Regions from separate parts of the Homo sapiens genome. Here region 1 is reported to be linked to region 2. The links are microRNA targets in miRTarBase. Many come from high-throughput screens and were not tested one by one. Region 2 holds a microRNA gene; the other region holds the end of a gene's coding sequence.
The links. The annotated mature microRNA hsa-miR-6885-3p reads CUUUGCUUCCUGCUCCCCUAG and lies in region 2 at 1,859-1,879, opposite strand. An mRNA with a match to its seed (bases 2 to 7 or 8) in the 3' UTR can be bound and repressed. Matches are read on the target gene's strand: a 7mer-m8 pairs with bases 2 to 8, a 7mer-A1 pairs with bases 2 to 7 and ends in A, and an 8mer does both.

Region 1 (5,000 bases), not on the chromosome of region 2:
AAAGCACTGGGAAAAAGTAGTAGAAGGCACAGGTGTGGAACCTGGACCAGGTTCTGATGAGAGTGACTTAGAGATGGGCAACTGTCCCTTTGCTTCCTTAGAGGTTCCTTACTTACCACCAAGTGAAAAATCAAGAGAACTGGGTCACCCCCTTCAACAGGAGTCTAGGGAAATGGGGATGGGGGAAGAGCAAAAGGCAGGTGGAAGCTGTGGGAAGTGGGAGGGGGAACAAAAGGAGCAGGCCGGGAGGCAGGTGGCGGGCTGAGGTGACCTGGCATGACTGCTCTACACCCCGCAGTGCTGCATCGACCTGGAGCACGGAGTGCTGCGGCTGAAAGCCCCGTTCTCAGAGCTACCCTTCCTGCCTTTGTACCAAGAGCCTGGCCAGTGACTGCTGTCTCAGTCAGTCCCCAGAGGGAAAGACCTTGCCTTAGAAGAAGAGGCGTGTGGGGAACGGGGGCTCTTGAAGCCAGGTAGCTGGGGACTATGGTGTCTGCCCTTCCAATCACCTCCCTGACCCCTGCTGTCCCATTTTCCCCAGCTGGCCGCATTCCTCTCTGCTTCTCAGCAGCTGTCCTACTCCCCAGGACGAGTTTTCACTAGAGGGCCCACGATGCCAGGATTCTGATTCATCTTCCTCCCAAGAAAAGCAAAGCCAAATCAAGACCACAGATAGGAACCTAAGCACAATGGGGTGCCTGCTTGGGCTGGGTCGAAGGCTCTGCTGACTGCTGTCCTTGTCCATCACCCAATACCACCCCAAACACAACTCAACTTCCCACACCACCATGTCTCTCACCACACCTTCTGGGCCTCATTATCTCCCACAACTAGACCGCCATGCCTCACCAACCTATGTCCCTGGACCTCCTGGTGTCTGCCTCTCGGAGTCTGTGCACATCTGCTCACAGTTGAGTGGGGGAAGAAACAGCCAGAATTCAATACAACAAAGAGCGGGAGTTAGTATAGGAATGTCCATCTCATAAGGCTGAGAGCTATTTTTTCCTGTGGCTGCAAATGTCTGAAGCCAGTTAGTTTGATTACCCTGTGCAAAACCTTGGACATACTTCTGCTATTAACGCTATAGGTATTTATCCGTTTCCACTGGCTTTTTGTACCCACCGAGCCCCTGAGCCTTGCGTGTGTGTGTGTGGAAGAGCCTTGTAGAGAACTGCTCCTGTGAGGCAGACAGGACAGTGAGGTTGTCACCACTCAGACTTCACCTATTCAGCATTCTTTCTGATTTCTAGAACTATCCACCTCATTAGGCCTTCTTCCTATCCCCATCTCTGGCCTCTTGAGCTTAAGCTTGTATTGTCCTGGAATCAGTGGCTTTCTAACCCCCTGCCAGGCTTTGCCAAAGCAAAAAGACAGAGGCTTTTTTTTTTTTTTTAAAGTTTGGGGTCTGTCAGGAGACAGAGGCTTTTTTGAATTCACTGTGAAGAGAAGAACCCGAACCTTAAGACGCCAGATCCCTGAGAGTCTTTCTGGCTGGTTTGAGTCTCTCAAATCATGGATTAGGAGTAAAGAAAGAGGCCAGGCGCAATGGCTCATGCCTGTAATCCCAGCACTTTGGGAGGCTGAGGTGGGTGGATCACTTGAGGTCAGGAGTTTGAGACCAGCCTGGGTAATATGGCAAAACCCCATCTCTACTAAAAAATACAAAAATTAGCCAGGTATGGTGGTGAACACCTGTAATCCCAGCTACTTGGAAGGCTGAGGCATAGGAGTTGCTTGAACCTGGGAGATGGGGGTTGTAGTGAGCCAAGTTCGTGCCATCGGACTCCAGCCTGGGTGAAGGAGTGAGACCCTGTCTCCAAAAACAAACAAAAAAGGAGCAGAGAAAGACAGTGGTACAGCTAACCTGAACAAGGGAACTGGGACCGTTGGGCTGAAACAGTCTTGAGCCTGGGGTTGACTGGGTTAGAGAAGAACCGGGATGCAAGGAGCTGCCTGTGACACCTGGCCTGCCCTTTCTCAGCTGCCTCCCCTGCCCTTTCTCAGCTGCCTCCCCTGCCCTCAGAAGGAAAGGAGAGGGCTCACTTATCACTTGTGCCATAGCACCTGGTCTCAAAATCCTAAAAGCTTTCCTCGCCCTCACTGCCTTGCTCCACAAGGTCCACTTTCCTGGGTCTTGTGCTGTGCCTTTCCTTGTCTGCCTCCTGCTGCTTCTGTAACTGCAGACCCCAGGCCCAATGGCAAGCCCTCGGCTCAGCTGCTTCTCCATTGGAATAAACTCTTGTTTCTCTATGTCGATGTTCTTCTCTGGTCTTCCTCCCTGCCTATCAAGAGCTGAGTGATAATTGCCCATTGTCCCTTACAGAAAGGAAATGTAAATGTGGGCCCTTGCCCAGGCTGACCCATCTGACTAGGGTCAGTATAATTGAGAGGAATTTGAAAGCAATGGCTTTCAAACTCCTCGACCACAGCTTACCACAGCAGGAATACATTTTACATGGCACTCAGTACACACATGCACATATGACTAACAAAACAATACTTACCTACACTGAGAGCAATGTACTCTGCTATTTTCTATTTTACTTTATTCTATTCTACCTATTTAAAAAATGCTGGCCATAATCCACCAAAGGACTGCAACCACAGTTTGAAAAACACCGATTTAGAGCATAGAGAATCAAGAACAGACGGCACATAAATGACCCAAGATATAATTCTGATTGTGGTCTGGATCATAAACCCGCATCACATTTTAAATGTCTATTGTCTTGGAGACAATAAGCTGTTTTATGGGGGAATGGGTGGGTGGAAAAATGGGAGCAGGGCTTCTGAAGCTGACTAATACCTGAAGAATACGGCAACGTGAGAAAGCACTGACCCGGCTGCTTTGGTAAATGGAAGAAAATCATCTCAGGGTTGCTAGGAACATGGGTAAGACCAGACTGTAGAAAGATCCTTCAAAACAAAACAGTTTGCCATTCCTTTAACAATTACTAACGTCAAGAACTTGGAATTGTGCCACGGAAGACAGAGCTTAAGATGGGGTGGAGCCCTTACCTCCACTGCTCCCCTGGGCCTAAAGCCTGGTTTCCTTATGGGTGTTGGGGCCACACAAACAAGTCTCTGTTTTCAACACAGTGACAGTGGGGAGTGGGTCATGTCCCAGATGATTTGGAACAAGGCCAGGGTCCTATGACCCTGCTGGCATGATGGGTGAGGTCCATAAGGAAATGGGCAGAGGGTCAACTTGTCTCTTCTTTCACCGAAAAGACTGCGAGGTCTATAGTTCACGGTCACCCTAGGGCTGCTGCCATCTTTCATGCCCAGAGTCAAATCCTGCATTTCTGTAATGCATATTCCCTATCCTGCCAATACCACAGATACCTTTAGGGGGTAGGGTGGGGGTTCAGAAGAATCCTTCACCAGCTATGAGGCAAGTACAGCTAGGTGGGATCCTGGAGGCTTGAGGGAGCACACTGTGGTGGCTGGTCTGGATGGTAGAGCGTTTGGTGAAGCAGGGCACGAGTCACAGGGAGGTCGTCAGGATCTGAGAGCCAAGAAGGGGTGGGTAAGAGGCTGTGGGTCTCCTGGGCACCCGGGCCACTGGCTTTTCTGGGACTCACCCACGCCCAGCTCCTGCAGCATGCTGTGGGTCTCCTGGGCACTCGGGCCACTGGCTTTTCTGGGACTCACCCACGCCCAGCTCCTGCAGCAGGCTGTGGTACTCCGGCTTGGTCTCCAGCAGTTTCACCAGATTGGTAGACTCCATCCGCTCCAGCTGCACCTCCCAGTACACATAGATCTTCTGGTTGAAAGTGACATATACGAGGCAGGGGCTGTTGCGGCCCTCTTTGCAGGCGTACAGGCCTGGAAGATGTTGGCAGGGAGATAAAGGTCAGGAAGTTTCAGTGCCGACAGTGGGGGGCAGACAGCAAGACACAGACCTCCGAGTCAGCACTTTCCATCCTCCCACTGATGTCAGGAAAAAAATTAAAGGTTATTTCTTCTCTGTTGGGAACTCAGTAAAACAAGTAAGATGGGAAAAGACCTGGCTCACTTCAGATGTAGAAAAACCATAGTAACAAAACCCGGGCAGAATAGCATCCAAAAAGGTGCTATTTATTGCTTTTCCCATCTTAGTGATATCCCTGGAGTGATGAGGGATGGCATTGCTCGCCCAAGGGCGAGACTAGCAAAACACGATCAGAAAGTAAAGCTTCTCTTAGGTGCCAATCCCTCCTTCCAAATGCATCCCCCAGTCACCCAGAGAGTGAGTGCTGCCTCCCAAGGCCCCTGATTTGGAACTAATGAAAATGCTCTAGGAGAACTTTCTTCACAGAGACCTGGCATGCTGAGGTGGAAAAGAACTTCCTGATGTCTTCACACATCCCAGACAGATGACAGAAACTCATTCCATTCTTTAAAATATTCGGGGTGGAGATGTTACTGTCTTTTATTTCTTCTTATTTAAAATTGTCAAGATGGCAATGTAGTGACCACCCCTCACCCCCAAACAAAAGAGCTGAAGAACTCACGGTGAATGAAGACTTACATCACTCACCCCTCACCCCCAAACAAAAGAGCTGAAGAACTCACTGGTGAATGAAGACTTACATCAGGGGATACGTCAGAAAGGGAAGTGAGGGGCAAACACTTCCCTGGCATGCCTAACACGCCTATCTAACTTAAGTGTGGTTAGAAAGGGGCCATGGGGGCGGGGGTCACCTGCACAGAAGGCACGGATATTTTCATCCACTTGGAAGCGGACGACGGTGCGGTTGTGATCAATGATATATGTCTGTCCATCCCAGGCGCATGCAACTACCTCCTCATGCCCGTTGCCCTGAAAAAGGACAGAGACAAAAGGAACATAAAGGAGCTGTGGACTGGATTCTGGATGACAAACAGCGAGCTGGGGAGGAATTTCACCCGTGGGTTCGGCAGTAAACGCAACTGTCAAATGAGCCACCTCACATAATGCTCACAGCCACCCTAGGAAGTAGGCAATTTTATACTGAGGAAACCTCAGCTCATAGAAA
Region 2 (5,000 bases):
TCGGGATCATTTCTGGAAAGACTGTGTGAGATTATCTCAGGAGAGCCCAACCCTGCAGTCAAACTGTCTACATTTGCCTCCAGCTCTGCTATCTGTGGGCCACACCCGGGAAACTGAGGAGCCAAGTGAGAAGATGGGGCGGGAAGGCATGGCCAAATTTTTTTTTTTGAGATGGAGTCTCGCTCTGGCACCCAGGCTGGAGTGCAGTGGCACCATCTCAGCTCACTGCAACCTCCACCTCCCGGGTTCAAGCAATTCTCATGCCTCAGCCTCCCGAGTAGCTGGGATTACAGGTGTCTGCCACCACACCCAGCTAATTTTTGTAGTTTTAGTAGAGACAGGGTTTCACCATGTTGGCCAGGCTAGTTTCGAACCCCTGACCCCACGTAATCCGCCCGCCTCTGCCTCCCAAAGGGCTAGGATTACAGGCGTGAGCCACCGCGCCCAGCCATGGCATGGCCAAATCTGAAGTGGACACCTGGCCCGGGCCACCATTTCCTCAAGCCTAAACAACTGCCCAGCCTCCTTGAGGCCTCTACCTCATTCTTTTCTACCCCAAAGTTCCGGACAGTCTGGGTGAGTGCCTCTTCCCTGCCTACAGCTTTCCAAGGCTCCGCTGGACCCAGCACATCCTGGCACCCACTGCCCTGTGTGAGCTGCCTGTGTCTGTCACTATCACCCAACTGCTGTGCCTGGAGCACCCTTCATCAACCTAACCTGGACCCCTCCTGTTCTGCCCTCAGTCTGCCCCCTCTGAGAGGTCATCTCAAGTGTCATGAGCTCCCAGGGCTGGCCACCTAAGCTTCCTGCATTGTGGCACTCAGAGCTGCCTCAGAGCCAGGCACAAGCACCAACTCAGTGAACTGTCTTCAAAAACACAACCCCAGGGCCTGGGCAGTGGCTCATACCTATAATCCCAGCACTTTGGGAGACCAAGGTAGGAGGATCACTTGACCCCAGGAGTTCAAGACCAGCTTGAGCAACGCAGCAAGACCCCATCTCTACCAAAAATACAAAAATTAGCCAGGCATGGTGGGGCGTGCCTATAGTCCCAGCTACTCAGGATGCTGAGGTGGGAAGATCTCGAGCCCAGGAGTTGGAGCCTGCAGTGAGCTACGATCGCACCACTGCACTCCAGCCTGGGCAACGGAGTGAGACCCTGTCTCAAAATAAATAAGTAGGCTGGGCACGGTGGCTCACGCCTGTAATCCCAGCACTACGGGAGGCCGAGGCGGGAGGATCGCCAAGTTCGAGACCAGCCTGACCAATATGGTGAAACCCTGTCTCTACTAAAAATACAAAAATTAGCTGGGCGTGGTGGTGGCAGGCACCTGTAATCCCAGCTACTCAGGAGGCTCAGGCAGGAGAATAACTTGAACCTGGGAGGTGTGGGTTGCAGTGAGCCAAGATCGTGCTACTGCACTCCAGCCTGGGCGACAGAGCAAGACTCTGTCTCAAAAAAATACAAGTAAGTAAAATAAGATAACATAAATAAATAAATAAATAAATAAATAATAAAATCCTACAGGGATGGAAGTGCCAGCACTTCCACTGCAGCAGTGGGAATCTGAGGTTCAGAGAGGGTACCCCACAAAGTATGTAAGTTGAGGCCTGGGGATGTGGACTGGTCACTAAGCCGGCACCGCCACCGCCCCACCACTTACTTCCTGCCTGATTTGCCGTTGACCCGGAGCAGCCAGGGCTGGTCCTCGGGCCGGAACTCCTTGAGGACGATGCCGTACTTCTTCCTCCGAGCCTCCTCCCGAAGCTTGCGGTTGAACTCACTGCCCGCGCCCGATTCGGGCATCTCCTCCTCTTGGTAGATTTTCTTGTTGCTCAAGTCCCGCTCCAGCCGAGCCTAGGGGAGCAGGAAGCAAAGCCTCTCAGGGTCCCTGGCTTTGCTTGCGCAGTGCCCCCCTCCAGGAACGCCCTTCCTTGCCCTAGGCCAAGCTCTAGATTCTCAAAACCAACTTACCACTTGGCAACAAGGGAGGAGAACGGTAGCCTTTGACAAATCTGGGTAAAGGGAATTTGGGCGAGCCTTGCGCTCTATTTTTGCAACTTAAAAGCTTGAAATTATTTCCAAATTAAAATTAAAGAGAAAAAGACCACCTGGTGACCATCAAGCAGGCCATCGGAGGCAAAATTCCTTATCTGAGGAATGTAGAAGTAATTAATTAGACTTCCCTATTATCTACAGCAGGCATCTGGTTCCAGGATTCTTTTCAAAAAATGTCTAAGTACCTAGAATTTCCACACATCTCTCCAGAATGCATGCATATCGAAACTCATTGTGCTGTGGCTCACACCTGTAATCCCAGAACTTTGGGAGGCCAAGGCAGAAGGATCACTTGAGCTCAGGAGTTTAAGACCAGCCTGGCATCAGAATGGCTTGAACCTGGGAGGCGGAGGTTGCAGTGAGCCGAGATCATGCCACTGCACTCCAGCCTGGGTGATAGAGTGACACTCTGTCTTAAGAAAAAAAAGGCCAGGCGCGGTGGCTCACGCCTGTAATCCCAGCACTTCGGGAGGCCAAGGCAGGTGGATCACGAGGTCAGGAGATTGAGACCATCCTGGCTAACACGGTGAAACCCCGTCTCTACTAAAAATACAAAAAATAAGCCGGGCATGATGGCAGGCGCCTATAATCCCAGCTACTTGGGAGGCTGAGGCAGGAGAATGGCGTGAACCCGGGAGGCGGAGCTTGCAGTGAGCCGAGATCCTGGCGCTGCACTCCAGTCTGGGCGACAAAGCAAGACTCAGTCCCCAAAAAAAAAAAAAAAAAAAAAAAAGACCAGCCTGGGCAACATAGTGAGATCCTATATCTATTTCCTAAAAATAAAAAGGCTGGGCATGGTGGAAGGCTGAGGCGGGTGGATCACTTGAGGTCAGGAGTTCAAGACCAGCCTGACCAACATGGCGAAACTTCGTCTCTACTAAAAATACAAAAATTAGCTAGGCGTGGTGGTGGGCGCCTGTAATCCCAGCTACTTGGGAGGCTGAGGCAGGAGAATGGCTTGAACCTGGGAGGTGGAGGTTGCAGTGAGCCCAGGTCGCGCCACTGCACTCCAGCCTGGATGACAAGAGACTCCATCACAAAAAAATAAAATAAAATAAATAAAAAGAAACTCATTGTGCAACACTTGCTGACATTAAGGCACCAAAATCTCTACAAATTAACAATTTATCGTGACCTACATGGCTAATGTGATCCGAATTACCCTTAAGCTCTTGATTTAAGGTCCATATATACCATTTCCAAAACACTCTAGAATCAGCCACATCTCATAACCTCCACTGCCTCCAGTGCCCTGCCAGGACTCACCTAGACCAGTCCAGTTGCTTCTACCTTGGTCTCCGTTTATTTGCCCTCAAACCCACAGTTTGTCTCCCCATAGCAGCCAGATCACACACACTACAACTTCCCAATTGAAGATGCTTTAATGGCTCCCAAAGTCCTTTCTAGAGCCTCTGATGGCAGGGGCTCTGGGAAAGCCCCCAGCCCAGTCCCCTCCCTTGCCCAGATAAACCATGGCCAAAAATGTCCAACAGTGGGCACAGCTTCTAAATGTTCTCCTTTAAGGAGAGGCCTCTGGTGGGCCTACCAAACCTAACTTACAGGGACACCCAGGAGCTAGGCCTGGGCCTTTGCCATTTCCGTTTTTTTTTTTTTTTTTTTTTTTTTTTTTTTGAGGCAGGGTCTTGCTCTGTTATCCAGGCTGGAGTGCAGTCGTACAATCATAGCTCACTGCAGCCTTGAACCCCTGGGCTCAAGCGATCCTCCTACCTCAGCCTCCTATGTAGGACTACAGACCCACGCTATCAGCCCCAACTAACTTTTTAATTTTTTTGTAGAGTTGGGGTCTTGCTATTGTATTGCCCAGGCTGGTCTCAAACTCCTGGCCTTAAGCAAGCTTCCTGCCTCAGCCTCCCAAAGTGCTGGGATTACAGGTGTGAACTACTGCACCCAACCCTTTGTCATCTATCTTTTCTTCACTTGGAGAAAAGTGAGAAAATTAAGACTTAGTGACTATGACAGTTAAGCAACTATCACAACCACCAAGGTCAGGGTCAAGTTCTCTCACCACCCCAGCCCCTGACCCCCAGGACTCAGAGACTTACCTGATTCCACGTAGCAAAGTTGACTTTGTCGGCTGCATTAAAAGCCATGATGTTATATTTTTTGGTTGTATTCCTGGAGTGGATGAGAAGAGGTAGTGTCAATCCAATACAGCAATTCAATCATTAATTTAATCAGTCAATGCTATTGAACCATTAATTCAATCAACCACCCAACTGGATCGTTAATTCAATCAAATCATTACTTTAATTCAATCACTCAATTCAATTGAACCATTAATTCAATTCAATCATTCCATTCAATTGAATCATTAATTCAATTCAATTCACTCAACAAACCCACCCAGCTTCATTCAGCCTGTTTTGCCTGGCAACACTGGATACGGAAGACTCCAAGGATTCCCAGTCTGCCAGAGAAGCTAGACCCATCCTCTCCTGACCCCAGGCAGAAGAAGAGCAGATGGAGGGACGAAGATTTGGGGGAACCCAAGATGTGGAGATTATTGTGAACTCAGCCTTGGGGAGGAGGGAGGACAGGCAGGGAGTATTTCCTGGAGGAGGAAGATACTGGAGTTGAGTTTTGCAGAATCATCAAGAATTCACCCAGCAGAGTCACAGTTTAGGGGTTGAGGGGAGGCACTCATGGCAGAGGAACAGGATGTACAAAGGCCTGGAAAGGAAAGACAGCCTGACCACTTTGAAACAGGACGAGGAATATGTCCTTACAGCTGGCCTGGGCATCATGGGACCATATACTCCTCGAAGGTTAGGCCAGGGGGCTGGATCACCGTGTATTAATGCACTCATTCATTCATTCGTTCAAAAAAGCAGTGTTGTCCCCAGAGAAGCCTCAGCTTAATCCCAGCCCTGCCCTCCAAGTCTCTCCCGGTCTGGAGGGAGAACCACAGACAGGGCCAGAA

Region 1: the mRNA of NRIP2 is a reported target of hsa-miR-6885-3p. Seed matches in the 3' UTR shown: 7mer-m8 at 648-654 and 8mer at 1,361-1,368.

Annotation. Positions count from the first base shown.
Region 1 is chr12:2,822,598-2,827,597 of GRCh38, reverse strand. NRIP2 (nuclear receptor interacting protein 2) reads left to right here. Exons shown (of 6, transcript NM_031474.3): 6 at 299-2,250. The coding sequence ends at 391. It overlaps ITFG2 (integrin alpha FG-GAP repeat containing 2), which reads right to left. Exons shown (of 12, transcript NM_018463.4): 10 at 4,687-4,804; 11 at 3,655-3,828; 12 at 2,522-3,508. The coding sequence ends at 3,405. Among named protein-coding and RNA genes, the nearest start is that of NRIP2, 9.9 kb to the left of the region's middle. RefSeq lists a silencer at 2,181-2,475.
Region 2 is chr19:6,387,780-6,392,779 of GRCh38, forward strand. It overlaps MIR6885 (microRNA 6885), which reads right to left and starts at 1,924; the gene lies at 1,859-1,924. It overlaps GTF2F1 (general transcription factor IIF subunit 1), which reads right to left. Exons shown (of 13, transcript NM_002096.3): 3 at 4,123-4,195; 4 at 1,665-1,858.